Regions from separate parts of the Homo sapiens genome. Here regions 1, 3, 4, 5 and 6 are each linked to region 2. Evidence: fine-mapped expression QTL. A gene starts in region 2. Each other region holds a variant in brackets. All regions are shown on one strand. Distances are between the middles of the regions. Region 1 has its middle 30 kb from the start of ZNF354A. Region 2 holds the start of CLK4 (CDC like kinase 4). Region 3 has its middle 22 kb from the start of MSANTD5. Region 4 overlaps CLK4 (CDC like kinase 4). Region 5 overlaps ZNF354A (zinc finger protein 354A). Region 6 overlaps COL23A1 (collagen type XXIII alpha 1 chain).

What was found. PIP is the estimated chance that this variant, and not a neighbour inherited with it, causes the effect. A credible set is the group of variants that fine-mapping cannot tell apart.
Region 1: its variant is the best candidate, but not a certain one, in a credible set for the expression of CLK4 in whole blood (INTERVAL, PIP 0.74).
Region 3: its variant is the best candidate, but not a certain one, in a credible set for the expression of CLK4 in whole blood (TOPMed, PIP 0.68).
Region 4: its variant is the best candidate, but not a certain one, in a credible set for the expression of CLK4 in subcutaneous fat (GTEx, PIP 0.54).
Region 5: its variant is the best candidate, but not a certain one, in a credible set for the expression of CLK4 in whole blood (INTERVAL, PIP 0.72).
Region 6: its variant is the best candidate, but not a certain one, in a credible set for the expression of CLK4 in non-classical monocytes (Schmiedel 2018, PIP 0.74).

What each region holds. Positions count from the first base shown.
Region 1 is chr5:178,758,656-178,762,743 of GRCh38, forward strand. No RefSeq gene overlaps it. Among named protein-coding and RNA genes, the nearest start is that of ZNF354A, 30 kb to the left of the region's middle. The variant G/A (reference allele first, on the strand shown) is at 2,200.
Region 2 is chr5:178,625,333-178,629,420 of GRCh38, forward strand. It overlaps CLK4 (CDC like kinase 4), which reads right to left and starts at 1,718. Exons shown (of 13, transcript NM_020666.3): 1 at 1,614-1,718. RefSeq lists enhancers at 664-1,344, 1,077-1,686.
Region 3 is chr5:178,673,435-178,677,522 of GRCh38, forward strand. No RefSeq gene overlaps it. Among named protein-coding and RNA genes, the nearest start is that of MSANTD5, 22 kb to the right of the region's middle. The variant G/T (reference allele first, on the strand shown) is at 1,678.
Region 4 is chr5:178,600,085-178,604,172 of GRCh38, forward strand. CLK4 (CDC like kinase 4) reads right to left here. Exons shown (of 13, transcript NM_020666.3): 12 at 3,760-3,850; 13 at 2,580-3,673. The coding sequence ends at 3,533. Among named protein-coding and RNA genes, the nearest start is that of COL23A1, 12 kb to the left of the region's middle. The variant T/TAA (reference allele first, on the strand shown) is at 1,579.
Region 5 is chr5:178,722,840-178,726,927 of GRCh38, forward strand. ZNF354A (zinc finger protein 354A) reads right to left here. Exons shown (of 5, transcript NM_005649.3): 4 at 2,537-2,632. Among named protein-coding and RNA genes, the nearest start is that of ZNF354A, 5.8 kb to the right of the region's middle. RefSeq lists an enhancer at 504-1,004 and a silencer at 1,220-1,420. The variant C/A (reference allele first, on the strand shown) is at 2,415.
Region 6 is chr5:178,583,212-178,587,299 of GRCh38, forward strand. All of the region lies in intron 1 of COL23A1 (collagen type XXIII alpha 1 chain), which reads right to left. Among named protein-coding and RNA genes, the nearest start is that of COL23A1, 5.1 kb to the right of the region's middle. The variant C/T (reference allele first, on the strand shown) is at 1,608.

The sequences.
Region 1 (4,088 bases), 130 kb after region 2:
GTAGAAAGACATAGCAAATTAACATTGTATTTTCATCTGTTTTAGAGAAGTAATGAAGTATTTTCTATTTTTAAACATCCTGGCTAGTATTTGCTTTCTAAACCCAAAACAATCATGTTACTTCCATTACCAGAAAGGGGTCCTGACCCAGACCCCAACAGAGGGTTCTTGGACCTTGTGCAAGAAATAATTTGGGGTGAGTCCATAGAGTAAAGTGAAAGCAAGTTTGTTAAGAAAGTAATAGGCTGGGTGTGGTGGCTCACGTCTGTAATCCCAGCACTTTGGGAGGCCATGGCGGGCGGATCACTTGAGGTCAGGGGTTTGAGACCAGTCTGGACAACATGGCGAAACCCCATCTCTACTAAAAATAAAAAAACTGGCAGGGCGTGGTGGCACGCCTGTAATTCCAGGTACTCAGGAGGCTGAGGTATGAGAATCACTTGACCCCCGGAGGCAGAGGTTGCAATGAGCCAAGATTGCGCCACTGCACTCCAGCGTGGGCAACAGAGCAAAACTCCATCTCAAAAAAAAAAAAAAAAAAAAAAAAAGGAAAGGCAAGGCATAAAAGAATGGCTACTCTGGCTATTACATAGGCAGGGCAGTGGCATGGGCTGTTCAGTTGAATACACTTATAGTTACTTCTTGATTGTATGCTAAACAAGGGGTGGATTATTCATGAGTTATCTGGGAAAGGGATAGGCAGTTTCTGGAACTGAAATTTCCTCCCCTTTTTAGACGGCATATGGTAATTTCCGAATGTTGCCATGGCATTTACAAACGGTCATGGCGCTGGTGGGAGGGTCTTTTAGCATGCTAGTGTATTATAATTAGTATATAATGAGCAATGAAGACAACCAGAGGTCACTTTCATTGCCTTCTTGGTTTTGGTGGGTTTTGGCTGGTTTTTTTTTTTTCCCACTACTCAGGCCCTCAACAGAATGGATGATGCATCAGCAAGGTCTTCGTGACCTGTATCTTGTTCTGACCTCCTATCTCACCCTGTGACTAAGAATGCCAAACCTCCTGGGAATGAGGCCCAGTAGGTCTCAGCCTTATTTTACCCAAACCCTGTTCAAGATGGAGTTGCTCTGGTTTGAATGTCTCTGATACTTTTTTTTTTTTTTTTTTTTTGAGACGGAGTCTCACCTTGTCGCCCAGGCTGGAGTGTAGTGGCACGATCTCAGCTCACTGCAACCTCCGCCTCCCGGGTTCAAGGGATTCTTCTGCCTCAGCCTCCCAAGTAGCTGGGATTACAGGTGTCCGCCACCACGCCTGGCTAATTTTTGTAATTTTAGTAGAGATAGGGTTTCACTCTGTTGGCCAGGCTGGTCTCGAATGCCTGACCTCAAGTGATCCACCCGCCTTGGCCTCCCAAAGTGCTGGGATTACAGGCATGAGCCACCGTGCCCGGCCGCCTCTGATACTTCTCTACTTAAAAATTGTAGGCTTGAAAACAATAATCTTGCTTGAGCTCAGATAGTCACACATATATTGGGTGACTATCATGTTCCAGGCCCTCAAATAGGATATACGAAAAGGTTAATAATAGGTAATCCTTGCCCTTAAAAGTAAATTCTATTGATGATTTCACACTGTTTACAGCAGTTTCTCAAGGTGTGATCCACTGACGTCCCCTCCGCATTTCTGGTATGGATTAGAACTACAGTGGACAGGCTGGGCATGGTGACTCACACCTGTAATCCCAGAACTTTGGATTCTAAGGATTGACTCACTGAGACGGGTGGGTCATTTGAGCTCAGAAGTTTGAGACCAGCCTGGGCAACATGGCAAAACCCTGTCTCTACTAAAAATACAAAAATTAGCCAGGTGTGGTGGTGCATGCCTGTAATTCCAGCTACTCGGGAGGCTGAGGTGGGAGGATCACCTGAGCCCAGAGATCAAGGCTGTGAGTAGAGACTGCACCACCACACTCCAGCCTGGGCAACAGAGAGAGACCCTATCTCAAAAACATCAACAATTGGGCTGGGCACAGTGGCTCACGCCTGTAATCCCAGCACTCTGGGAGGCTGAGGTGGGCGGATCACCTGAAGTCAGGAGTTTGAGACCAGCCTGGCCAACATAGCGAAACCTCATCTCTACTAAAAATACAAAAATTATCCAGGTGTGGTGAGGTGTGCCCATAATCACACCTACTTGGGAGGCTTAGGCATAAGAATTGCTTGAACCTGGGAGGCAGAG[G/A]TTGTAGTGAGCCAAGATTGCACCACTGCACTCCAGCCTGGGCGACAGAGCAGGACTCCATCTCGTAACAAAACAAAACAAAAAAGAACTATGGTGACCCAGGTAAGTGTGAGCTCACTTAGAGTAGAGTGAGAGCAACACAGGAAAGCTGCTCAGGGAAAACCAGGTTCCTGTTTGGTGCTGGAAATTGTCGATGAAGAGAGTCAAATTCTGATATTTGGAGATTTACCCTTAGCCAAATGTGAGGACCATGACCCGTGACACAGCCCCAGGAAGTCCTGAGAACCTGTGCCCAAAGTGTTCAGGCTACAGTTTGGTTTTACACATTTTAGGGAGACATGAGACATCAATCAATATATGTAAAATGTACATTGGTTCAGTCCGGAAAGGTGGGACATCTCAAAGCGGGTTGTTGGGGGGTTTCCGGGTCATAGATGAATTCAAAGATTTCCCGATCGGCAGTTGGTTGAAAGAGTTAAATCATTATCTAAAGACCTGAAATCAACAGAACAGAGGGTCTGGGTTCAGGGGTTGTGGAGACCAAGGTTTTTATTACGCAGGTGAAGCCTCCAGGTAGTAGGCTTCGGAGAAAATAGATTGTAAATGTTTCTTATCAGACTTAAAAAGAATCCAGACCCACTGGGCGCCATGGCTCACGCCTGTAATCCCAGCACAGTGGGAGGCTGAGCTGGGTGGATCACCTGAGGTCAGGAGTTCAAAACCAGCCTGGACAACATGGTGAAACCCTGTCTCTGAGAACTGCTTGAACCTCAGAGGCGGAGGTTGCAGTGAGACAAGATCGTACCACTGCCCTCCAACCTGGGCGACTCTGTCTCAAAAAAAAATAAAATAGATAAAATTGAAAAAGAGGATGCTGAAGCTTAGAATGGGGACATCTGGTGGGACTCAGATGAAACTGAGAATCTTGAATCCACAAGTCACTCTGAGCCTCTTTTGCCAAACGAAGGAGCTTGCTCTGTTGTGTCTAAGGAGACTAGCTGCCCTTTTCTTGAAAACTGTATGACAATCTCACATGAGGAGATGCCTATTCTCCTTCAGACCCACCACAACTACCACCAGTTGGCACCAGACTCACAACTAGGATCTTAGATTTTTAGTACCCACTATGGCCTAGAATGAGATTGCTTTTACACCAAGAGAACTGCAAGATGTTGCCAATCTATGTTGGCAGAAACCTAGGGAGTGTGTGAGCGTGTCAGACCAAGGCAGGCAGAAGAACATGACCTACAGTAGACTGAACTCCCTGACCTAGGTACACTAAGATTTTGGATATCACGTGTTAGTTTGCTTAACTGGAGGTGGCTCTCAAAGCTTATTTGGTTGGTGGCTGGAACTAGGACTCCATGGTGGCCTAAGATGAGTGGGCAGAGATGCCAGAGCTGCCCTGGCATGGTTGGAGGAGGGAATCTGAAGGCCTAGGGAGACGAAATGTTGAAAGGATTTTTACCACGGCAACCTGCACGCCTACCCACCAACTACATCCCCCAGGAGACCCCAGAAAATGCCTTCTTTACTAAGGTGTTGAGAAATACATTCATGGGGGGAACACCTGCATCCTTAGAAGGTCTGTGGCTTTCTCCTTTGTAGGCCAGGTATGATGGATCGGGGGTGTGGCCACCATTGATGTGAGCTCCCAACAGCAGAAGCCAAGAGGCAGTGCCCAACCTCCAGACGCAGTGCGAGCATGCCCGCCATCACGGACCGCAGCACGTGCCTGTGGTCAGCAAGCCCTGGCCTGTAGGAGGTTTGGCAGAGACTAACTGTCCCAAGGTCTCTGCGACTGAAACAGATGAGAAGCCTGCTAGAACACTGCCTGGGAACTCACCTCACAACAAAGGGAGTGGAGCACTGGGTTCAGGCCCATAGAA
Region 2 (4,088 bases):
ACAATCACTGGAGCCCAAGGAAGTCAAGGCTGCAGTGAGCCATGATCACGCCATTGCATACCAGTATGGGCGACAGTGAGACCCTGTCTCAAAAAAAAAAAAAAAAAAAAAAAGAAAATGTGTATTTCAAGTGCAGTTCTTCTGAAGCGTTCCGTCAAATACCAAAGTTGTATTTTAACCACATCAGGAACTCAGCTTGGTTAAGCATTTTTAAATCATAGCAAGCAAAATCACATCTGATGACCGAGCGTTATTATTATGACCCTCCATTACTATGAAGTTTTTTTCAAGACTTATGTATCTTCTTCAGTTTTGTTTTTTCCTCTTCTACTGTAAGTCTGCTTACAACCAGCTAACCTCCAGCAAAACAGAACTCTCAAATTATCAGTTAATATGCAAACATTAAAATAAGAACGAGCTCCGTTGTGAGAGTCCAAAATTCTTCTCAAGTTCACTACTTCAAATGTAATTCAGCTGTTAGTCCCAGCCTCTGACCTCCCCCACTCACCCTGCAATGTTCAAAAATATTTTATCTGGAGGCACAAAGATCACCCGACCCACGTTCTACGTGGTAAGGTTCCTTCGCATACATAAAAAAGAAAAGCTATCTAGAATCATGACACTGCCTCTAATAAAGCATCCCACATGCTAGAGTAGGTATCTTTCAAAAAATAATGACACAATGGATCTCATATGTAGATCCATCGCCACTGCCCTTAAGATCCTGTAGTTCTTGACAACTTTACGCTACGTACATGGCTTAAAAACATCGAAACAGGTTATAAGTTTAGGATTGGATGGCTCCAAGAGGACTGCATTTAATGGGTTACAAGCCTGTAGGGGTGTGTAAAAAGCACAATCGCACAGGACAGCTATGAGGCAAGACAAAGTGGCTGGCGAGTTCAGTTTGCGGGGCGGTTTCCTAAGGATCGGATAAGCCTATCTGGACTATTTAGGCAACCAGGGATAATAAGATGCAAAACCACCAGAAACGCAGGTTCGCTGCAACAATGTTGTGTTCAGCATAGCACAGAGGACTAGCCTCCGCAAATTTCCACCTCTCACAAGCAGCTACTGCCCTCAACCACCTGGATTTGCACGGACGCCCGGTCCCCACCTCCCGGCTCCTGGGCACCCGGCCAGTGCCTTTGGCGCACTCAAGACAGGGGCAAATGCTTGACTCTGGAAAACCCCCGAAACGCTACAAACGGCCCAGGCCAGGAATCCAGGGGAAGACTTGATCTCCGACAACACGAATGCCAGAGACGGCTCTCGAAGGGTCTCCCGACAGGTCCTAGCGCCCGCCGGCTGGAAGAGGTCCCGACAGGGTTAACCAACAGCCGCGCTCGCCAGGCAGCAGGGGACCGCGAGCCCACGGCCTCCGGAGCCGCGACGCGAGCGGCCAGGGCCCTCAGAGAAGGGTCAGCGGCAGAACCGCGACGCCCGAGCAACTTTCGGTGCTGCCGGCGTGCACCAGCCGAGCAGCGCCTCGCAGAACTCCCAACTCAGCTCCAGAAGCCCAGGCCCCTAACGCGGTCGTTTCTCCGACACCTGGCTCGGAGACCTAAAGACCGACAGCCGCCTGTCCCAGCACACACCATCTGCAACCCTACCTCCGCAAAAGCAAATGGCCCTTCGGCCGAGAAATGTCGCCAAACTGCCGTCTTCCCTCCTCGGCCGCTGCGACAAACACCCCACAAAATGGCGGCAGCGCCGTCGCCCTAGAATCCCCCGAGTCGCCTCTAGCACCACCTACGCCGCGCGAACGCGCCTGCGTGACAGAACCTTGCGCGCTCCCGCCGCTCCACCTAAGGGCGGGGCTCCACGTGACGTAAGAGCGGGGCTCGAGCCTCCACACTGCGGCTGCGCGGCCCAAGCATTTCCACCCCCCCCCCCCCGCCCACCCGGTCCCGGGGCCTCTAGGCCGGGAGGGTGTTTACGTTCTCTACGGGCTCGGGTGGAACCGGGAAGGAACGCCCGTGTCCCGCCCTCAGTGTGTACCGCGTGTCTGCCCCCTCCCCCGGGACCTCAACTCCCGCAGCCGGCACCCGACAACGGCCCCAAAACCGCCTAGGGCGGGCCTTGGCTGGTCCCTGGGCTGTTCCCTGGACTGGGTGCTTGTCCTGCCCACTTGGCGCTTCCAGTCTAAGGTGGATTCGGACAAAGAGGCTGTCTCAGAAAACAAGCTCAAGGGGTGCTAATCTTTTCAAGGCACGTGCTCCTATTCAGAACAAAACAAAAACCCGGAGGTTTCAATGGAGACTCCTGACAAGGTTTTCCTGTTAGGATCCCTACCTCCTGAGCAGTTAAGGTCGCTGGAAGTTTCCCTAACGAAGTTTTCCCCATTTTTTTTTGTCCCTGCGGGCTGATTTTATTCAAGGCTGAAAAATGTCTCTGAGCTAGTGATAGTCCGTTATGGGGCTTGCTTACCTCAAATAAGGTATTCTGCAGTTCTGAGGACCCTCAGGCAGTTCCCCCGTGTAAGTATGTAACATGAGAAATATTAGGGTCAAAGTCGGAGCCCTGTGGGGAACACTCAAGGGCCAGAGGGAAAGGGGCCTGAGAAGGAATGATCAGCAGAGGAGGAGAACCAAGAATAGGGTGTCAAAGCAAGGAAGGGCGTAAGTGAGGGAAAGGGTTTAGGTGAGACTGAAGATCGTGGGGGGGGACGGCGGGCGGGGTGGGGGTTGGCTTCTGTATTCTGACGGGGATTCGCTGGATAAAAGGGAAAGCTAGAAATCAAATTTGGGAGGGTAGGGTTGAACTCTTGCGGGTATTAGCCCAGTAGCATGTGGGAGACCTGTTATCCTGTTAGGTGAAAGGAGGGAACGGAAATACCTTTAGTGATCTAACATGATAGAAACTTGTGCCATCTGGTTTGGGTAAGTAGGGTAAATTTAGATAAATCTCGGAGATTGTACAGCATTTCAAAAAGTAAGTTGAATTTTCATGGAGATTGCACTCCAAGAAGCGAAGTTGAAAAGAAACTTGGAAAACTGGAAGGGTAAACTCTTTATGCTACAGAATGAAACAAATGATATTATTTTCATCTAGAATAGCCACCATTTTTGCATCTACAAATTTAAATCTTACTCATCCTTGAAAGGCCATTTCTTTAAGATGCTGTCTCTGACATGAGTTCCCACCCATTTCCCGGCTCCTGACTACTCCAGTTAGATGTGAAGTCCTCAAATAGTGGAGTATTTGGAGCCACCTGGTATGCTAACAGATTTTGCCCAAAGAGTGAAATGTATTGGTTCTACAATTGATTACACATCCCGTCTCAAGGGAATCTATTAGATAGAATGTTGAGCTGACTGGTCTGGGCGATAATACAAGGTAGAGTGGGGCTCAAATTGCAGCATATGAGAATGTAAATTCAAGCTGGCACCAAAGAATGTTCTCCTGTTTCATGGAGTAGGAGAGATCCTGCCTCCTGGGGTTATAAGAAAGTGTGGTCAGGACAGCCCACAATTCTGCTCAAAAAAGCAACACTATGTTAAAAAGCAGCCACTTGAAATGCCACCTACAGAGGCCTTTATATTATAGACGTCACACACACTGTTACCCAATAGTAGAGTCTGCTTTGTAATTACATTCATCTCGCTTTAGTGTTTTAATTTGTATGCCACCAAAAGGTCTAATGTTTAAAAGTGTGTAGTGATCAGAAGGAAGCTGAGAATGACTAGCACCTCTATGCTATGTGATGCAGCACTATGGTGCCCCTAGTCACTCTCTGTGGCTTTGTGCTGAGTTTGGAGACAAGGACCTGATTTATATTGTCTTTGGTATCTCAGGCCTAGAACCCAGTAAATATTTGTAGGTTGTTTACATAAGCTGCTTTGGGCCATTTTGCTCAGTTGGTTTAAGGTCAAAGTGAGTAAGTTAAAGGTAGACATTTCATCCCAGCATCACTGCACCAGTTAGCTTACCACCCTTTCGTGGCAGCCTCAACCCTTCCTATTAAGTCAGTTACCTGGCAAGACTTAATGAAAAGGTTTATCTAAATTTCTGAGAATCTACTACCAATACCAGAAACACTGCCTAATCCAGTGGTTTCATCTCTACACAAGAACAGTATGTCCAAA
Region 3 (4,088 bases), 48 kb after region 2:
ACATGGCGAAACCCTGTCTCTACTAAAAAATACAAAAAGTTAGCCAGGCGTGGCGGTGGGCACCTGTAATCCCAGTGACTCTGGAGGCTGAGGCAGGAGAATCGCTTGAACCCAGGAGGCAGAGGTTACAATGAGCCGAGATCATGCCACTGCACTCCAGCCTGGGCAACAGAGACAGACGCCATCTCAAAAAAACAAAAAACAAACCTATAATATGCCAACAGCTCTAGTGGAAAAAGTAGACAAGATGTGAGAACACATATGTGTTGGGGTGATCAGACCCAACACCAGGTCGTGGGGGCGACGAAGCCTGGTGGAGTCAAAGGATTGACAAAAAGACAGTCTATGAGAGAGAGAAGTGGGACCACAGGGCCATCACTAGTGTATGGAGGCTGCGAAGGCCCTGAGCGCTGGGACCCCACGCTACTTATTGGTAATCCAACAAAGAAACAGGTGGTGAGAATGTGGAGGTCAAAAGGGCGCGTTGCATCGAGCACATGATTTACATGATTTACAGCTGTGATGGTTTAGCATTTGCTCTGCTACTTGTGATCATGGAGAGCAGGTTCTTTTAATTCAAGATACAATCGATCCTGGGAGAGCAAAGAGCAAGGAGCCAGCAAGTCTAGACACATTCTAGAGCCACGAGACCTGGACTGTATCCAAGCCATGAGGGGTTTTATGCCCTGGGCTTAGACTACGGTGTGACAGGGCAGCCTTCCACCCTTTAGCACAGAACTGGGTGTTCCAAAGGCCACAAGAGGTTTTAGACCCTGGCCCCCGGACATGTTCCAAGACTCTTTTACATTATGTCAGACATGCAAGCCCTGCCTCAGCTTCTCCCAACACTCAGCTTTTCCCAACACATATGTAATATAAGCAGAGAGATGGAAACTTTAAGAAAAAATCAAAAGGAAATGCTGGAAATAAAAAGAAAAACTCACTATAATTGAAATGGAGAATGCCTTTGATGGCTTACCAAAAGATTAGACATGACTGAGAACAGAATCAGTGCACCTGGAGGAATGCAAAGAGGAAGAAGGAATGGAAAAGACAGAGCCTATCTAAGAACTGTGGGACAATGAGAAAACATGTAAAAAATGGACATACAAGAAGGGGAAGAATGAAAGGAATTTCAAAGATTCTTTTCTAACCAAAGCATTTATGGCTATAAATTCCCCTCCAAGCTCTGTCTTAGCTTCATTCTACAAAATGCTTCTAATTTTGTGTGATTTCTTCTTTGACTCATGGAATATTTTGAAGTATATTCTTTAATTTTCAAATATTTGGGGTTTTCCTAGATAACCCTTTGTTTTTTATTTTAATTGAATAATGTCTAGTCGGAGGCATATTCTGTAGGATTTCAATCTTTTGAAATCTGTTAAGGCTGGGCACCTTGGCTCACACCTGTAATCCCAGCACTTTGGGGTGCAAGGCGGGAGGATTGCCTGAGGCCAGGAGTTCGAGACCAGCCTGGCCAACATGGTGAAACTGTCTCTACTAACAATACAAAAAATTAGCCAGGCGTGGTGGGCGCCTGTAATCCCAGATACTTGGGAGGCTGAGGCAGGAGAATCACTCGAACCCGGGAAGTGGAGGTTGCAGCGAGCTGAGATCTCTTCTCCTCTTATAAGGAGCCATACTGAATTAAGGGCCCGCCCTACTCCAGTATGATCC[G/T]GTCTTAATTAATGACATGATTTCCAAGTAAGTTCACATTCTGAGGTACTGGGGTGGCAGGGCATTTGGGGCGGGGTGCGGGGTAGGGACACACTTCAACTCAAAACACTTGCTAAACTCATTTATAGTTCTAATGTTTTCGGGTGGATTCCTTAGGATTTCTATATACATGATCATGTTGTCTGTAAATAAAGGTAGTTTTACTTCTTCCTTTTCTTTTTAAATATTTTTTTTCTCACTTGATTCACTGGCTAGAAGTTTTAGTACAATGTTGCATAAAAGTGGTAAGAACAGATACTTTTCCTCACGAGGAAGGAATTGTCTTTCATCATTCAGTATGATATCAGCTGCTGGTTTTTTGGTATATGTCCCCTTTTAAGTTAAAGAAGTTCTCTTCTTTTTTTATTTATTTTATTTTATTTTATTTTTTTGAGACGGAGTCTCGCTCTGTCGCCCAGGCTGGAGTGCAGTGGCGAGATCTCGGCTCACTGCAAGCTCTGCCTCCTGGGTTCAAGCGATTCTCCTGCCTCAGCCTCCCAAGTAGCTGGGACTACAGGCTAATTTTTTGTATTTTTAGTAGCGACGGGGTTTCACCGTGTTGGCCAGGATGGACTCGATCTCCTGACCTCGTGATCCGCCTGCCTCGGCCTCCCAAAGTGCTGGGATTACAGGCGTGAGCCACCGCGCCTGGCCAATAAGTTCTCTTCTATTCTTGATTTGTTTAGAGTTTTTAATTATAAATGGCTGTTGGATTTTGTCCATTATTTTCCTGTTTTTATTAAGATGATCATGGGTTTATTTTCTTTATTCCATTAATATGATACATTACATTAATTGATGTTTGAGGGTTAAGCCCACCTTGTATACAAGGGATAAATTTCAGTTGGTCACGGTGAATCACCCTCTTTATATGTTGGTAGGTTCCGGTTGATAGTATTTTGTTGAGAATTTTTGTAGATTCATGAGGGATATTAATCTTTAGCATAGTTTTCTTGTGATGTCTTTGTCTGGCTTTGTACTAGGTAGTACTGGTCTCATAGAACAAGTTGACACATGTTCTGTTCTTTGTTTTCTGGACAGGTTTGCAAAGGGATTGATATTTTTTCTTCAGACGTTTGGCAGAATTTGCAAGTGAAGCCATTCAACTTGGATTTTCCTTTGCAGGGAGAGATTTAAAAATATTTATTTTTTTAAAGTAATTGTAGATGCAGAAGAATTTGCAATAATAAATAGATGTCTCTGTGTCCTTCATCCGGCTTCCCTCAATGGTGACATTTTTATATTACTGTAGTGCAAAACCAATTTGGGAAATTGATGTTGGTACAATACTGTTAACTATATGACATCTTATCCAGTTTTTCTCTCTCCCTCAGTCCCTGTCCTGTGGCAACCACTCATCTGTTCTCCGTCTCTACAGCTCCTCATTTTGAGAATGTTATATAAATAGACTCGTACACTTTGTAACCTTTTCAGCTTGACTCTTTTCAGTAAGTACAATGCCTTGAGATTCACCCAGGTTGGTGATTACATCAATAGTTCATTCCATTTTATCGCTAAGAAGTATTCTCCTCTATGGTTGTGCCAGAGTTTGTTTAACCATTCACACACACATTGAAGGACTTCAAGTTATTTCATTTTTTTTAAACAAACAAAGCTGCCATCAACATTTGTGTACAAGTTTTATGTGAACACAAGTTGTCATCTCTCACAAAGAAACGCCCAACAGTGTGATTGCTGGGTTGTATAGGAAATACATGTTTCGTTTTATAAGGAACTGCCAAACTATTTTTCTAGAGTGGCTGCACCTTTTTTTTTTTTTTTTTTGAGACGGAGCCTCGCTCTGTCACCAGGCTGGAGTGCAGTGGCGCGATCTCGGCTCACTGCAAGCTCCAACTCCCTGGTTCAAGTGATTCTCCTGCCTCAGCCTCCCGAGTAGCTGGGATTACAGGCACGTGCCACCACACCCAGCTAATTTTTGTATTTCTAGTAGAGACGGGGCTCACCATGTTGGCCAGGATGGTCTTGATCTTCTGACCTCATGATCCACCCGCCTCAGCCTCCCAAAGTGCTGGGGTTACAGGCGTGAGCCACCGCACCCGGCCTGGCTGCACCATTTTACTTTCCCAACGGGTGTGTACTAGAGATCCAACTTTTCCACATCCTCGCCAGCATTTGGTGTTTTGTTTTTTAATTTTAGTTTATTGTGATAAGTGTGTAGTAATATCTCATTGTGGTTTCAATTTGCATTTCCCAAATGCCCAATGATATTCAACATATTTTAATGTGCTTATTTGCTATCTGTACTTAATTTTTTTATTTTTTCTTCTTTGAAAGGCTCCTGTTAAAGCAAACTAAATATGGCCTGAGAAGGACTCCATATCTCTATATTTGAGTCCTTGTGGACAAACTGT
Region 4 (4,088 bases), 25 kb before region 2:
AACCTGGGGGTTTTGGGGTTTTTTTGTTGTTGTTGTTGTTTTTGAGATGGAGTCTCACTCTGTCACCCAGGCTGCAGGGCAGTGGCGCGATCTCGGCTCCCTGCAACCTCAGCCTCCTGGGTTCAAGAGATTCTCCTGCCTCAGCCTCCCGAGTAGCTGGGACTACAGGCGCATACCACCACGCCCAACTAATGTTTTATATTTTTAGTAGACAAGGTTTCACTGTGTTAGCCAGGATGGTCTTGATCTCCTGACCTCGTGATCCGCCCGCCTCAGCCTCCCAAAGTGCTGGGATTACAGGTGTGAGCCACCGCACCCACCAAAAACCTGGGTTTTATTATTCCATTTCACTCGGAGTCATTTCAGAGTAGAGCTGTGAATAAGAAGTCAAACTGATCATTCTGACTCAATGTATTATTACAGGAAAGCACAATGGTAGAATCTGGCAAACCTGAATTTAAGTCACAATTACTGGGAGATTTGGCCAAGTCACTTCCAATTTCTCTAGTATACAGCCCTTCTAGAGTACTCAGAGGAGTAGTTTTCAATTTTATGAAGTATAAAATTGTTAGTAGTTTGTCCCCTTGCTGTCAGCAGGAGTCAATTGAATTCAACTACTCTGAAAATTTTCATGAATGCATGGATGAAAAAAAACCTCAAGAAAATGAGCAGCAGCAGCAAGCTGGAAATAATCTACTTAGCTGCACTTTACAAATGCCTCCTAAAAAAATCAAGCTTGACTTCAATGGAATTTCTAGAAACAATTCAATGGAATTTCTAGAAATAGTAATTCTATGAGGTATCAAATTATTAAGAAAAATACCTAAATTACAAAGGATTCATGTGCATTGGCCATTCTAAATCTTTTTCCCTTTTAGTGTTGAAGCTCAAGGCACTGTCAAAAAAAAAAAAAAAACAAAAAACCTTGGAACTTGACAAAATGAGTTCAGAAATACAAGGAAAAAAGGCAATTAAGAGTAGGAACTTGAAAGCTCAAAGAAGAGGGGAAGGAAGGTTGACAAAAGACACTCAATGATCCCAGAGGTACTGCCCTAACCTCTAAGCATTGCATCTATCCTAATTTTTTAAAGTTTCGTTTTAATTCCCGAAATTCCATGAATTAGGCCTAGAAATTAGCAAATACCCTTTGTGAAGAACGTAAATTTTCAGAAGAGACAGGGGGTTAGCAATCAATAACTTCTTAGTAAGAAATAATGTGAATATTTTTCTTTCCTCCTATATCCTGAGATCAGCTACTCTGAGTTTTTCATAGAAAGTAAACACTAATTTGGGAACTTGAAGCACTTATTGGGGGAAAGGACAGGAGGCTTGGGTAGTACAATGGCAGTGGAAAAATAAAATGAAGGGGAAAATAAAGGATAGCAAACACCTTAATCTGTAGGGCTACACTGGTAAACTCAGGAAAAACCTTGTTTTTAAACATCAAATGCTTCTTTAAAAAAATTATCACATACAGTTCAACTATTCTGAAATAAAGTCACTGTATTTGGACTATATCAGAGGCCTAAACATAATGTATGCAGTCATTCTACAATAAACTTTTTGTTTCAGCTTTCT[T/TAA]AAACTCCTAGTCTACTTTAGGAACACAGCCTTACTGTATTGACAAATGTTGCCCCTAAGTAACATAGAAAACCAAGCTTGGTTTCATTATTTGTCCTACAAGAAAATCCCATGCATTTTATGTTTAAAATACATAAACAGATTAGCCAGGCATAGTGGCTCATGCCTTTAATCCCAGCACTTTGGGAGGCCGAGGCAGGAAGATCACTTGAGGTCAGGAGTTTGAGACCAGCCTCGACAACATGGTGAAACCCTGCCTCTGCTAAAAATACAAAAATTAGCAGGACCTGGTGGCACATGCCTGTAATCCCAGCCACTCGGGAAACTGAGTCAAGAGAATCGCTTGAACCCAGGAGGAAGAAGGTTGCTGTGAGCCGAGATCACGCCACTGCACTCCAACTTGGGCAACAGAGCAAGACTCAGTCTAAAAAAAAAACAAAACCTAAACAGATAAAACTCCAATATTTGTGTAATGCACTTATGAAACAGGGATACTTTTAACAAAAATTCACCTGTATCTGGAAATAAGCACTTAGGAATTCTACAACAAAAAATATTCCTACCTGGCTGACTGAACCATAGCAACAGACATTTTTTTCTTTTGCCCAATTAAGTAATTTACCACATACCGGGTTTTTGTTTTGTTTTGTTTTTTCTTTTTTTGAGACGGAGTCTCGCTCTGTCGCCCAGGCTGGAGTGCAGTGGCACAATCTCAGCTCACTGCAAACTCCGCCTCCTGGATTCAAGCAATTCTCATGCCTCAGCCTCCAGAGTAGCTGGGATTACAGGCGCCCGCCACCACACCCAGCACTTTTTTGGTATCTTTAGTAGAGACAGGGTTTCACCATGTTGGCAAGGCTGGTCTCAAACTCCTGGCCTCAGGTGATCCGCCTGCCTCGGTCTCCCAAAATGCTGGGATTACAGGCGTGAGCCACTGTGCCTGGCTCCATATAGTTTTTATGTGAAAACAAGGACAGTAAAAGAACAACAACAACAAACGCTGAAGTCAAAAAGTTTATGTAACCAATCAATTAAATTCTGGAAATTTCAGCAGCACTTTCTTCCCAAACTGCTTTCCAATCAAATCCTCTTTCTCCCGTAAGAATTATCACAGACATAAATTGCCTAATTAATAAACTTAATTCTTATAGGTTTACGTATTTATGTCATTTGATAAACAGATGCTGGCCAATGTTAAGACTCCTAAGGACTTGGTATTAAAAACTGAAACCTCTCATCAGAATTTCTATTTTTATATCTGTGACTCACCAAACATACTTGGAAATGTCCATTTTCCAAGCTGACTTTCCAGTTAGATTTTAATCTTAAATAAAGTGTGTATGTGGTTTTATTAAACAAACTGTCACAATGGACAAACTGCATGCCTTTCCATGAATGTCTGGTTATCACCCTGACATCACCCAATGAAAAAGAATACAACACTTAAAATTTAATAGAATTCTAACAGTAAACATTTTCTGAGTTTTGGTTTCTAGTACCTGCTTATCTAGAGTTAATAATAATCACCCGTTCAACAATTACAGAAGAAAAACTTTTAAAGTTAAGTTCTAAATTTGAAGTATATAAAGAATATTCCTTTAAGAATATAAAGTAGTCAAGATTTCCTTTTACTCAAAAAAAATCACTTCAGAGGTGACCTCCATGTACAAAAGGCAAGATCAATCACATTTATCACTGGACACAAAGGATATTTCAAAGGTATTTAAAAATGGTAATTTCAAAAAGAAAAATTAATTTTAATTTTTCTAATGCATTATCAAGACCATACTTGCTTAACAAGTTAATTATGCTATTGATACAAAACATACAATATTTACACTTAACTGTACAAAATAATTTAATGTTTACAAAAATATTAGAATGTTTAGTTGACTGACACAGTCTTAAGTAATCTCTTCTAGAGAAGTATATAGTAAGACCACTGATTCCCATTTCATTTCTTTTTTAATAAGTCAAAGAAAGGATGCTGCAATGCTTCATCCAAGGTAATTCTTTGAGTTGGATCATATTCTAACATTCTTCGAACCAGGTCAAACAGTTTCTCATGTTCTTCATCATGACAAAGCATAAATTCCTGGGGGAGAAATGTTTTTGTTTTAAAAAAAATTATTAATAGTGCAAACACGTGGTTTATTTAACCTTTAATCTTTTTTCTTTTACCTTCAACGGTTTGCAGCGTCTCCTAACATATCTACCAGCAGAACTGTGTTCATCCCAATCTAGCTGGTTATGGTGAAAATACTTGCGTTTTCTACAGAAAAAAAAAAAAAGTCTGGATTAGTAAAATAACAAGAGTCGTATCTTTACCCTGCACCCATGAGGGGAGACATGGAAAGCAGCTCTCTCTAAGTGTATAGACTTATATAATATAGATGCATACAATTTTTAAAAACCTCAGCAACAATTATATATCGGACACCTCATATCCTCCACCCTGTGAGGTTTTAGTCTCTCAACTAAGTTGTTCCTATCACATATGGAACAATGTC
Region 5 (4,088 bases), 98 kb after region 2:
AGATGGCGTGGGGGCTGCAGGGCTGCGTGTCAGATGATCTGTGCCTGTGTGAGCCGAAGCCTGTGCAGCACAAGGAAGTGAGCGAGCCACATGGACGCATGACCGCCACGAAGAACAGTCCCAGACAGAAAAAGCAGGGCAGAGGCCCTGAGTGGGGGCCTGCTTGGCGCCCCCCATGACACACTGCAGGGCGGCCAAGGGTGATCAGAGGCCTCGAATGAAGGGCAGAGTGGAAGGAGCTGAGAGTGAAGAGGTAGCCAGGGCCAGACCACGTAGTGTATTTCTCCCAAAGGAGAGTTAAAAAGATAAACAAGTGTGGTTCCCATATAAAAAAATCTCACCTTTCTTCAGGGAGGAGAAAGCTCTCCCCAGCACAGGGGCTGTGGGGACCGAGGCTGCCTGCCCTGCAGCTCCTTGCTGGGCCCATGGCATAAGGGGCCATCACTGAGCCCTCTGGACCTGACAAGCCCTGCACTGTGGCCGTCAGGTTCTCCACATGGGCTGGCGGCTGCAGAAAGCAGCCTAGGCCTGCCCTGGGCTACTTACGGCTCCTCAGAACCTGTGCCTGGCTCTCAAGCACCAACCAAACCCTGTGACAGGGCCCGTGGCTCTCTCTCGGGTGCTCCACCTTCTCCTCGCTGGCTTTGCTTCTCTGGACCTTCATGAACACCTTTCTTTAGGCCTGAGCAATTCTTCAGTCCTTTGATCCCAGGCCCTTCCACAGGGAAGCCTTTGCTGACGCCACCTGCCTGCTCTGCACTCTCACAGCACCGAGTGTCTTTCCCACGTGGTCCTCACTGGAATGTGTCCTTCTGTGCCTTGTGTGCAATGAGTGTGTTCACCTTGTCCCCCACTAGATCGTGCACTCCAGAAGCAGGAGACCTGTGTCCCTTTCTGCCCAATGCTATACAAAGCTGTGGGCGAGGGTTCAACCTTGATCCCCCAGAGCCAGAGCCCCCCCAGTTCAACCACTCTCAGTCCCCCACTGCCACGATGGCCCCTCCCCGTTTCTCTACTCTGATTACTTCTCGGGCTCTGTCAGATTCCTCCTGCTTAAGCACCTCGCAAATGCTGTTTCCTGAAATTCGGGCCTCCACTTGGCCCCCTCACCTGGCCAGCTCCAAGCTTCTAATGCCCATCATGCTAATGGGCTCCCTGACCTCCCTTGAGTCTCGGCCCTGTCACTTACACACCTGCCCACCAGGGTTCCCCACCTGACGACTTCACTCACATCTCAAGTGAAATCCATCCCACACCCAACTGCTCCTGTACCCTGATCACGTGGGCGCCGCCTCCTCCCTCACGAACTCACGGCAAGTGCCTTCATCCAGGCCCTTCCACCTCCTGCCTCCCTCCATGACTGCAATCGCTCTGCAAGGCTTCCCGCCTTTTTTTTTTTTTTTAAGACAGAGTCTCACTCTGTCGCCAAGGCTGGAGTGAAGTGGCGCAATCTCGGCTCACTGCAACCTCCGCCTCCCGGGTTCAAGTGTTTCTCCTGTCTCAGCCTCCGGAGTAGCTGGGATTACAGGCCTGCCCCACCACGCTTGGCTAATTTTTGTATTTTTAGTAGAGGCAGGGTTTTGCCATGTTGCCCAGGCTGGTCTCAAACTCCTGACCTCAGGTGATCCGCCCGCCTCGGCCTCTGAAAGTGCTAGGATGACAGGCGTGAGCCACCGTGCCCAGCGTTCTGCCTCACTTTCAAACACGATGCTTCCAAAGTGACCATTCTTGTGAATTCAAATCACATAAGAACGTCACAAATATATTCTCTTTGTGAAACATTAAAATACTACATGTAAGTAATGCCCCCTTCCATGGACCCATTCTCAATCCCATTCCAAGTGTAACTAATGTCATCAGCTAAGGTGTGTCCTCCTAACCTTTCTCTCTGCTTATGTGCACATTACACATACACATAATTTTCATTAGACATAAATGGTGGCGTCCTAACAATGCTCTGTAACTTTTTGGGAGCTCTGTCCACGTCCCTGGACTCTTGTTTTCAGGGTGGTGATGCTCACAGGTCCCTTAGCTGTTCTTACACGGATGGAGACTCAGCTGTTTCTGATTCACACCAACTTTTCTAAGATACCAAGGACCATATGATTCCTGCCCAAATCCTTCCATTATTTCCAGTGCTCCATGGGACAGTTTCCACCTCTTAGAACCGTGCCCAAGCACTTACCACGCGGCCCTTCCCTAGCTTTCTAGGCTATTTCCTTCCTCACCTCCTCCTTTCCCAAATACACCCTGAGCTTCAGCCAGAGTGATTATTTGAAATTCCTTAAATAGACTATGTTTGCTGAATGAATACATGAAAATACAGCCCTATTCTAAAACAACAGGAAAGAGTAAGAAAGAGATTCTGAGAGATTCATGGGGAAGTGAATCCTGCCTAAGAGCCTGGGCTTCCG[C/A]TTCCCCATCACTTCTTGAGGCCTGAGAATTCTCAAGGGAGTTTCCCAACCAACGTTCCTACCTCCTCTCATTAACCAGACCATTGTCTGCGGCCATTCCGCACCTCGGGCCACCCACTTACCTAGAGAGGAGACGCCAGAACCGTCTTTCTCCACCTCCCAGGGATCTTCTCCTTGCTGCAACAGGGAGATCACTTTTGGTTTGGTAAATGGGAGCCCTGCACATAAACAAAAAACCACAACCAAACAAATCAGACTTGGTTTTGTATTGATACAGTTATCCCAAATTTAAATACAGAACTCACAGGATGGTACAAAGAGCTTCTGTGTAGGGCTTCAGTTGTGCCCCTGGGAGGTAAGGGGGTAAGGCGGTAGGGTGAGGAAAAGACAAGTGACTTGTAGGACATGACTCTGGGACAATTAATTATAGGTTAGGAAAATATGATCAACATGCAGTATTGGTAATAGGATACCACTAGCTTTCTATAGAAGAGGAAATGTTAAGATATACAGACTGATTAGAATTTCTAAGTAGGTTATCTATGAAAAGGATTATGTACCAGGTAGCTTGTCTAAAACGAGAAAACACTATCTGACTCCGCTTTTTTTTTCTGAGGAGGAGTCTCGCTCTATTGCCAGGCTGGAGTGCAGTGGCGCAATCTTGGCTCACTGCAACCTCCGTCTCCCGGGTTCAAGTGATTTTCCTGCCTCAGTCTCCCAAGTAGCGGGGACTACAGGAACATGCCACCACGCCTAAGTTTTGTATTTTCAGTAGAGACAGGGTTTCACCATGTTGGCCAGGATGGTCTTGATCTTCTGACCTTGTGATCTGCCCGCCTCGGCCTCCCAAAGTGCTGGGATTACAGGTGTGAGCCACCGCGCCCGGCCTATGTGACTCCCTTTTAAGGATGGCAGTGATCAGCAAACTACGGGTCATGGGCCAAATTCAGACCACTGCCTGTTTATGTATGGCCCTGTGCAAAGAATGGTGGGAAAAAAAAAGAGAAATATGTTACGGAGACCATTACGCAGCCCACAAAGCCTAAAGTCTTTACTACGTGGCTTTTTTTTTTTTGAGACAGAGTCTCGCTTTGTCGCCCAGGCTGGAGTGCAGTGGCGGGAACTTGGCTCACTGCAAGCTCCTCGCCATTCTCCTGCCTCAGCCTTCAAAGTAGCGGGGACTACAGGCGCCCGGCATCACACCCAGCTAATTTTTTTTGTGTTTTTTAGTAGAGACAGGCTTTCACCACGTTAGCCAGAATGGTCTCTATCTCTTGACCTCATGATCTGCCCGCCTTGGCCTCCCAAAGTGCTGGGATTACAGGTGTGAGCCACCATGCCCAGCCTACATGGCTTTTTATAGTAAAAGTTTGCTAATCCCTGGAAAAGACAAGTGGGAAAGGCAGGTGGTAGGCCTAGAGGCTGAATGAAGCTCCCTGTTGGGAGACAAGCAAACTACAGAATCGTTGGGAAACGATGCCTGAATCATGGACAAACTTGGAGTGTGTGATTACATAGAGAGAGAGGAATGATTATCAATACCACCTCTTCCATTCCCAGACACAGGGCAATTTCATGCCTATAAGGGGGAATAGGTTTTTAATGTTTATTTATAAAGATCTGATTTGTACAATCCTCACACACTCAGCTCAAATTTTTCAGTGACCAACCGCT
Region 6 (4,088 bases), 42 kb before region 2:
TACATAAACCCCTAGAGAACAAGCACCCACTGGCCTCCCCACTGGATCAAAAATCCTTTCATTGAGTTTCATGCCACTGAGGTGGAATTTCTCTAGAACACAGCTCCAGCTTAGAGCCCAAGCTTCTCACCCTATTCCTTGGATGGTCACCTACTGGTTTTGCCGGCCTCATGTCCTCTCCCTTTTCTTCCAATAACACCACTCCAAATTGTCCTTTGGGATCAGCTTTCACTTCTTGGTCCCTAGAGCTCCAGTGGGGTTGATCGTGCACACACATGAACACACACACACAGACGCAGCTGAGCCTCGCCCATCGAGAGGCTGCCCTGCGGGTCTCAGTGACCAGGACGGGTAATCCGTATTGTTAGATGCAGGCTGTCTGTACTGATAAATGCAGGCAATCCACACTGGTCCATCAGAGGGAATTAGGGAATTTCTGCTGGGACTGTTGGAAAACAGAAACTAACACTAAGGATGTGAATCTGGAGTTGCTGGAAGCTTCCCTGGCACTTTATGGGGAGAGTGAGGGCATCCTTGAGAAATATGGAGCCAAGAGGAAGAAACAAAATCCAGGCACCTTGAGCCGGGCCTACACAGACACTAGCCTGGACTTCTCCGTTACTCAAGCTAATTAATAACCCCCTGCTTTCTCCCCAATTTTTATTTGTTGTTGAAACAGCCTCAGTCTGTCACCCAGGCTGGAGTGCAGTGGCGCAATCATGGCTCACTGCAACCTTAAACACCTGGGCTCGAGCAATCCTCACACCTCAGTGTCTCGAGGAGCTGGTCTACAGGCTTGCGCCACCATGCCCAGCTGATTATTATTTTTTTTGAGATGTACTCACCCAGGCTAGAGTACAGTGCCATGATCTTGGCCCACTGCAACCTCCGCCTGCCGGATTCAAGTGATTCTCGTGCCTCCCAAGTAGCTGGGATTACAGGCACATGTCACCATGCCTGGCTAAATTTGGTGTTTTTAGTAGAGACAGGGTTTCGCCATGTTGTCCAGGCTGGTCTCGAACTCCTGACCTCAGGTGATCCACCCACTTCGGCCTCCCAAAGTGCTGGGATTACAGGTGTGAGCCACTGCACCTGGCCACACACACACACACACACACACACACACACACACCTAGAAATAAATACATATAAATTTTTTTCTTTTTTTTAAATAGAGACGAGGTCTTGCTATATCATCCAAACTGGTCTTGAACTCCTGGGCTCAAGTTATGCACCCACCTTGGTCCCCCAAAGCACTGAGATTATAGGTGTGAACCACCACGCCCCAGCCTGAATTCTTTGAAATTAAGCTGCACCATCTTGGAGTCATGTCACATTGCTATTTGAGGGTAAAAGGATCCAAAGGCATCTAGAAAGGTTGAAGCTAATGGGTTGCTGCTCGGTGAGGGAAGGAGGGACAGCCTGCTCTGGAGACCATGACTGTAACTGCACCTGCTCTGGAAGGGGATTTGGAGGCCACAGTCAGATATGGCTGCTAAGAAAGCCAAGGAGCTGGGGGAAAGGCAGGATAGTAGGGGGTAACAGAGCTTCCCAGACACACCGAGTGGGTGCAGGTGCACTGTATGTGGTCTCTGGTAGACTGACTA[C/T]CTTGGTCCTTCGGGGCTGGGGAGTGGCTGGTCACCTCCAGCCTAGTGTCCTCTTCCCTTCCTGCAGTGAGGGAAGTGCTACCATTCTTTGCATGTGCTATGATATGGGAAAGCTGGCAAGCAATGTCCTAGAGTGCCACCCTTAGTCACTCACTTCGGGGGCAGAACAGCATCTGCTCAAGGGTTAAAGGCCAAAGACTGCAACCAACGGGACTGTGCCAGAGACAATCCCAAACCCATCAACCTTCCCTTCAGCTGTGGCCGGCAGCACAGCTGGACAGCAGAGCCCCAGGGGAGGCAGAAATTTTGTGGTTGAAGAATGTTCCCAAAATGTGGTCCTTGGGAAACACCAAAGCAGAAGGAAGGCCCAGTTATGAGAACTTAGGCGGGCCAGTGGATGACTGAACCCCCGCTCTGCCCCACCCTCCTCTGGGGTGACAACAGAAACATTCCATGGCCCCAGCAGACACTGGGGTAACACTCCACGGCTGACCCTGGGGTAACACTTGTGGCCCCGGCTGACGCTCAGGTAACACTCTATGGCCCCAGCTGACTCTAGGGTAACACTCCGCGGCCCTGACTGATGTGTGGGTAACACTCCACAGCCCTGGTTGACACTGGGGTAACACTCCACGTCCCTGGTTGATGCTGGGGGTAACACTCCACAGCCCTGGATGACGCTGGAGTAACACTCCACGTCCCTGGATGACGCTGGAGTAACACTCCACAGCCCTGGTTGATGCTGGGGGTAACACTCCACAGCCCTGGATGGCGCTGGGGTAACACTCCACAGCCCTGGATGGCGCTGGGGTAACACTCCACAGCCCTGGATGGCGCTGGGGTAACACTCCACAGCCCTGGATGGCGCTGGGGTAATGCCCTACAGCCCTGGATGGCGCTGGGGTAACACTCCACAGCCCTGGCTGACCCTGTTGGTTGCTCCCCAGTAGCCATGCCCAGTCTTCCTTCCTACCAAAGCCTCGATTCTGTTCCAGCGGCAACACGCCCAGCCTCAGGGGATGAGTCAAGATTGGCCAAAGCCTCCTATGGCGATCGCATTACCCTTGCCAGTGAAGGGGATGGCGACCCTGTGACCTAGCTCTGGCTAGTGGCTGTAAGTCTGCCGAAAGGTGGGAAAGTTTTCCCCTGAATTGAAATTAAAGAGACAACCTCTCAAGAAGACCGCTCTCTTCCCTGCCCCCTTCCCTTCTACCCAGGCTACTCTTGGGTGAAGACATAGGTTCACAGCTGCAGCAGCCACCTTGTGACCATGAGGAAAGGACAAGAGAACGGCAGAGACTGAGTGGTACTCAGGTGTGGCCAAGTCGCTGACAGACCCAGGATGCGCTGACCGTCTTCCAAGCTTCTCCTGTAGTGTGTGCTAAGAAAGGACACTCAGATATTCTGTTACTTCCCATCAAAAGCATATTTACCATCCTGTACTTTTCCTGTCTGTTATCATATTTGCATACATGGGAGCTGTGACCACACTATCAGAGGAGAGGCAGTGGAAGAGGTTGGATGACAGAGCTGGTAAATGGTGGGACCAGGCCTCAAACTCTCTTCTGCTGATAGGAAACCTCAGGCATGGTCTGCTCTGCTCTGCCTCTGGTATAAATTCATTCAGCTTACAGATTCCCCAACCTCAGGGGCCATGCCTCAAATTTTCAAAGCCGATGTGGAAAAGTCCAATCCAAAATGACAAAATATGTCTGTGAAAGGAACGCCCCAATCCTTGGCTCATTCTAAACATGCTACTATTATTATAAAGCTCTCCCAAACTGTTGCAAGGAAAAAAAAAAAAGGACAAGAAAAGAGTGGAGAGAGAAAGTGAACATGCCAAGAAGTCATTGAAAGGAAACTTTTTTTTGTTGTTTTGGGAGCCAGGAAATGTCAAGGAAACAAATGTAGCTATGATTTACACTGCATCTCCAGTTGTGCCATGGAATTCAAAAATAGGCATCTTAATTAAAACTGACAGCAGAGAGCAGCCCTGACAAGTAGACAAACCACCAAAGAGGCTGAAAAATCTCCATTTGACTCTGGGTTGACAGTATTTAACCAATATACAGAGTTGATAAGAGAAAAGGAAAATGCGTAAACTTTACTCGAGTCTCTGGGCTTTTCTTGTTTTCAAACTGATTGGTCTGGACAATGGAAGGCCAACAGCCAACAATAAATCCATTGTAAGCTGGCATGGTCTCCTCTGAATACAACTAAATATTTCTTTAATCCTTGCATTACATTTTTTACTGTATTATGAAAGCCATGTATTCTAAAGTTTTAAGCTTTTATAACATTGTAACTATAGGTATAAGATGGGGGGATTGATTACTTAGGCAACCTATTTAAAGCACTTTAAGAGGAAAATATTAGATTTTTTTGCATGAATATTTTCACATCATAGTGAAGATACGATCGTTCATGGCTCTTACTCAGAAATCTTGTTTATCTCTTCCTTTGTGTGCCATGGGAAGGGTC